Regions from separate parts of the Homo sapiens genome. Here region 2 is linked to region 1. The links come from fine-mapping of genetic effects on gene expression. Tissue or cell type: blood mononuclear cells. Region 1 holds a variant in brackets; the other region holds the start of a gene. All regions are shown on one strand. Distances are from middle to middle.

Evidence for each region.
Region 2: it holds the start of GIMAP6, and the variant in region 1 is fine-mapped to the expression of GIMAP6 in blood mononuclear cells (TOPMed, PIP 0.94).

Annotation. Positions count from the first base shown.
Region 1 is chr7:150,684,359-150,687,281 of GRCh38, reverse strand. GIMAP2 (GTPase, IMAP family member 2) reads right to left here and starts at 1,576. Exons shown (of 3, transcript NM_015660.3): 1 at 1,497-1,576; 2 at 195-230. The coding sequence starts at 222. LOC124901774 (a long non-coding RNA gene) reads left to right here. Exons shown (of 4, transcript XR_007060589.1): 2 at 1,106-1,160. RefSeq lists an enhancer at 1,502-1,701. The variant G/A (reference allele first, on the strand shown) is at 1,646.
Region 2 is chr7:150,630,795-150,633,717 of GRCh38, reverse strand. It overlaps GIMAP6 (GTPase, IMAP family member 6), which reads left to right and starts at 1,333. Exons shown (of 3, transcript NM_024711.6): 1 at 1,333-1,549. RefSeq lists enhancers at 1,383-1,472, 1,483-1,572, 1,843-1,922.

The DNA of each region.
Region 1 (2,923 bases):
AAACAAACAAACAAACAAAGAAAACAAAACCCCACAATTTTCAGCTGCTGGTGGTGGTAGCTGTGGGAGTTAGAATAAGATCCTTCACCCTTGTTTATTTTGCCCCAACATCATCAGAAGAGCCAAACACACACACACACACACACACACACACACACACACACACACACACACACGTGAAGTCACCTTCTTACCCCAGTGACTGTGTTCATTTTGGTCCATTGGTGTTCCTGAGAAACAGAGAGACAAGAAACTTATTTTTCAGTTCTAAATCATGAAAAATTCTTATATTTCTTTTCTTTTCTTTTTCTTTCTTTCTTTTTTTTTTTTTTTTTTTTGAGACACAGTTTCACTCTGTCACCCAGGCTGGAGTGCAGTGGTGCGATCTCGGCTCACTGCAACCTCCACATCCTGGGTTCAAGTGATTCTCCTGCCTCAGCCTCCCGAGTAGCTGGGATTATGGGTGTGCACCACCATGCCCATCTAATTTTTGTAGTTTTAGTAGAGACAGGGTTTCACCATGTTGGCCAGGCTGGTCTCAAACTCCTGACCTCAAATGATCCACCAGCCTCGGCCTCCCAAAGTTCTGGAATTAAAAGCGTGAGCCATCACACTAGGCCAAGATCCTTATATTTCTAAACAACCATGTTTCATTTGTCTACTCATAAGGGACAAGGTGGGTGGGAAAGGAATGACTTCCTACTTTACAGAGAACTGGAATCACTTGCTGAGGGGCTGAGAAGTGGGTTTCATTTGTAAGCCTCATGCCCAGCTCTCTCTCGCTTTCTTCCTCCCGTCCTCTCACAGATCAGCCCGGCTCCCTTCTGTTTTTGTTTTGCCTGCACACTCTTCGCTTCTGTCAGCTTTCTCTGTAGGTGTGCCTTCCCTTACACCTTAGGCTCAGTCCTCCCTTTCCCTCTCTTTCTTTTCCCACCTTGCCTCCTTCCCTCCTCTACTCTCTCCAAACCTCCTCCCTCATGTTGAGTCTTTGCTGAGAGACTCAGTGAATGAAGATTATGACTCTGGGAAACCGTGCAGTCCTTTAAGCTGGAAATACACTTCACTTGATCCATTAATGGCTTGAATTTTTCTCATTCCCCAACAGCCCCTGGTTATGAAGCCCTTGCAATGTAGGAACTACTATGGAGTGAGAAATATCGGTACGTTTTCATCAGCTAGTTTCTCTTGCTTAAATCTGGCAGGCATAGACCAAGCGTACAAGCACAGAAAACTGAAAGCCACCGATTAATGCCCAAATTCTTCCCAGTTAGCACTTTTTATTGACTTTATACTATGGAAATTCTTTCTTTGCCAGTAATGTGTAAAGTAAATTACATCGGTTTCCTGTAAACTGGCTCCACTTAAGGAAAAGGCAGTCACTCTAAATTGCTTCTCTTAAAATAGGACAAATTTGTTCTAAGAAAAATGAAAATGTTTGTGCATGGCTTGGGACCTAGAAATCAACACTGCAGAACTTTTCGTAAATCTGGGCTTACCTGATTTACTGTTCAAAGAAACAGTTGGCTCCCTGTTCAGTCCTGTTGTCTTATAGCTCAGCTCCAAGAGAAAAAGAAAGTAAAACCGAGACTCCAGTCGGTCTTCTTCCTCTCTTGAATCTTCCTGAGCTTCCTGACTGCTAATGAAC[G/A]CCACCACGTGCCTGTGTTTGAAATTCTCTTTCATGCCATTATGCAAAATAAACAGTTTAAATGGAAAGTTAATCAGTAGTTATTTGCTGTCATGTGGGCCAACTGTCTCTTCTTCTCAAAAGTGAAAAAAGAGTGTTTTAATGATTTCATCTGGACTGGAAAGAAAGGCATGAATGCCAAGGAAGTTGGTGGATTTCAGTCCTTCCCAGCTGGGATATGTCCCAACAGTTAGAAGTTTGTCTAGATGCAAATGGCCCCCTGAGAAGGGCTTAAACCTCATTGACACCAGCAGCAGGGATTGTTCTAAAGCAGATGCCACTGGGAGAGAAGAGGAGCCTCTGATAGGCACTGCCCAGGGGAAGAAGGGCACAGAAAGGGGAACCTGAGAGGGGACATTTTTGTCTGAGTCTGATTGTAAGGATCATTAACCATCAAAACATTTTTACATAACTCATTCATGGCTTCTAGGATTCTGGGCCTTTCTTCCCTGTCCAGCTCTGTAATTTCAGAGAACCTCCCTGTGGGGAGAAATTGTCTAGGAAATGTCTATAGTAATACTCTGGAGTGTTGGCTGGGTCAAATGGTATTTCTAGTTCAAGATGCCTGAGGAATCGCCACACTGACTTCCACAATGGTTGAACTAGTTTACGGTCCCACCAACAGTGTAAAAGTGTTCTTATTTCTCCACATCCTAGCATTTAAAACATTTCCTTTTGATTGTCTTGGAGTTTCCAGGTTTATCATAGACTCAGTTGCAAATAGTGATAATTTTCCCTCCTTGTTTCCAAAAATATCTTATGTTGCTTTCTCTTGTATAATTACAATTGCTTGCTACCTTTTCAAAAGTGAGTTAATGTGCTTTTATTATTTATTTACCTGTAGGGCACCTAATATCTTATCATTAATATTGATGTTGGTTATTGGAAATTAATTAGTTTATTTTAAAATCAGTGTGGCTATACTTTGCTTAGTCCTATTTCATTAAAGTCTTTTATCTGTGGTATAAATTTAGAAAATTTTATTTTGACGTTGACTGATATAATTCCATGTCTTTTTCCTTTTGACCTACTAATATTGCAAATTACATCACTGCGTTTCCTAACATAAGTGATATGTACATGTACATGTGCAAAGGTTTGGGTTCCTAGGAATACAGACTGTTGAGATGAAGATAAAATGGATGAAGGAAGTTTATTAGGGAATCTTCTCAGGAAATGTGCTAGAGGGAGAAGGGAAGAACCCAGGATTAGGCAGGGAGAAGTGAGACTGAGATGTAG
Region 2 (2,923 bases), 54 kb after region 1:
ATCCTGGCTAACACAGTGAAACCCCATCTCTACTAAAAATACAAAAAATTAGCTGGGCGTGGTGGTGGGCACCTGGAGTCCCAGCTACTCAGGAGGCTGAGGCAGGAGAATGGCGTGAACCCAGGAGGTGGAACTTGCAGTGAGCCAAGACCGCACCACTGCACTCCAACCTGGGCGACAGAGCGAGACTCCGTCTCGAGAAAAAAAAAAAAAAAAGAATTAATCATGTTACACCAGGCGCGGTGGCTCACGCCCATAATCCCAACACTCTGGGAGGCCGAGGTGGGCAGATAACTTGAGGTCAGGAGTTTGAGACCAACCTGGCCAACATGGTAAAACCCCGTCTGTATTAAAAATACAAAATATTAGCCGGGTGTGCGGACGCCTGTAATTCCAGCTATTTGGGAGGCTGAGGCATGAGAATCGCTTGAACCTGGGAGGATGAGGTTGCAGTGAACTGAGATCACACCACTGCACTCCAGCCTGGGTGACAGGATGACATTCTGTCTCAAAAAAAAAAAATTAATTGTGTCAGGGTATTTACAGAATAATTTAAGTAGAACATTAAAAGATATATATATGTACACACACACATACTATGTAACAATTTTAATAAATACACCATGATTATCAACCAGAACAGAACCAAAGAAAATTAGAACTATTATAGTAGATTGAGTGGAATTTTTTTAGGGAATCTTAACATTTTAAAATCATGTGGTAACAATATCATCACCTATGCTCCTATGTTCTGAATTTCTTCCTTCAATGGCTTCCCTTTAGCCACAGTTATCAGATCTGTCAGTAAAGTCCTAGAAAACATGTTTTTGAGGATGCTGAGGTGTTTTCTCCCTTGGCCTGTGTTTAAAATATTGTTCTTCCCCCATAACAAGTGCTCTCTTTAATCCTACATTTTAGACATTCTTTTGTATTTTCCCTTTTCTTATAGTGCAGATCTTCTAGAAGCTGTAACAATTGTAATTACCAATGATTCATGCCTTAGAGGTAATGAGTGTCAGACCTTGTCCTGAGAGAAACTATTAAAGGAAGGAGAGGTTGGGGAAGAAAGGAGACAATGACTGTTTGCCCCAATACTGAGGCATAGAAGTTCCCTGGGGAAGAGGTGGGGTTCAGAAAAGAGAGATCAGGGAAAGTCACTCCTCCTGACACAAATCTTTCTGAGGCATCTGCCTCTTTTTAAGCTCTGAGTTCTAGTTATCCTGGCTCAGGATAAAAATAATCCCACCACTGGTATCCTCCCTTTTTCTACTTCCGAGGCTGCAAAGTGCAACAGCAGACTCTTCTGACTCAGGAAGGCCGGTGCTCCTACCCACTTCCTGTTCCTCCATCTCCAGCGGACACTGCTCTTTCAAGGGCAGGTCTCCAGCCCAGCTCTCTGAAAACATTTTGCTGAAAATATAAGCAAACATCGGCCTTGTCCTCCTTGTGTTCATACACTGTGGAAGCTTTTCTCTGCCTCCTCCGTGAGAGTGCGTGGCCGGGAGACCAGAAACGTGGTCCTTTCTCTTGCCTGTGAGCTGGTGCAGAGGTAAGTCTGAGTATTTGTGCGTGTCATATTTGGATGTGTATGTGTGGGTGTTTGTGTTGTACATGTGTGTTTACATGTTTGTATGTGTTAACATGAATGTGTGTGAGTGATGTTTGTGTGTGTGATGTTTGTGTTGTGTGTGTATGTGAGTGTTGTGTGTGTGTTGTGTATGTATATTTGTGTTTGTGTATGTGTTTGTGTGTTCACCTGCATGTGTGTGAGTGGTACATGTGTTTTGTGTATGTGTGTGTGTTGTGTATTTGTGTGTGCTGTGGTGTGTGCAGGTTTGTAATGTGATAAAAAGAGCTGTGACCAACACGTCTGGAGAACTTTTTGCCTTGTGACAAAGTCACTGTTTAATATTTGGCAAGATGCTTCTCTGAGTTTTGCTTTCTTCCAGAGCAATATGACAAGGATGGTACTATCTGTTCCATCTTCTGTGTTGGAGACAATGCACACTGTGGCCAACATGGGAGGTGCCATTCCGGGGAGGGTCTAGGAGGAGGCAGGGAGGTGCCTTGCGTGCAGACCCATTCCCCGAACCCTGCGAAGGCACAGTGCAGGTTCCTGCATGCCACAGCCTAGTCCCACCCGGCTGTTGTTTCCTGTTAAGCTGCCTGCCCGTTCTCTCTAAAGGAGGAATGAGATTACATTGGTAAAGTGCTGCCTCAATTTCCACCAGGGATGTAAGGAAGCCAGGGACAAAGAGATTGAGAGGCCACCAGTTAGGAAGAACTAACTCCCTTTGGTAGGTGAAATATTGTACTCCTTCCAGAATCTGGCTGTTCAGGTCTGAGTAAGGCTGTCCGCCTGGCCTGCTTCTTCTTTCTTCCTAGAAAGTCAACAGACCTTCCTGGACTCCCTCCATGCCCAGCCCAGCACTGCAAAATTGATCTTTACCAATCATAAAGCAATATCCGCATATATACTTCTGGGATCTGGGGAGGACTGGAGTGTTTGCCAGGTGAACAGAATAGAACAAACATCTAACAATGTGGCAATGAGAAAAACATGTCTATCAGGTTCCCCTGGACTTAGGTTTCCCCACACCCCAGACCCTTCATCTGGATCTGTTTCATCTGGTTGTGAATGTCCTACATGATCTGGAAAAACAGTCATGGACCATGCAACTTCCTCCTCAGTCCCACAGAGAAAATCCAGCAGAGAGAACCTTATGGGATCTTGGCACAGAGAACTGTGTTAGTCTATGAAGCCAGGACACATTGCTGTCATGGGAAAGGGGACAGGAGTTCCTGGTTGGGAATGATGTGGCCCTAATTTGCAAAAAGGACTAAGAATTGCTCTAAAAAATGTTATGAAGTATGTTGAGACCTTAATAGGGGAAGAGACATTCACAGGCATCTAGTTCAGGCC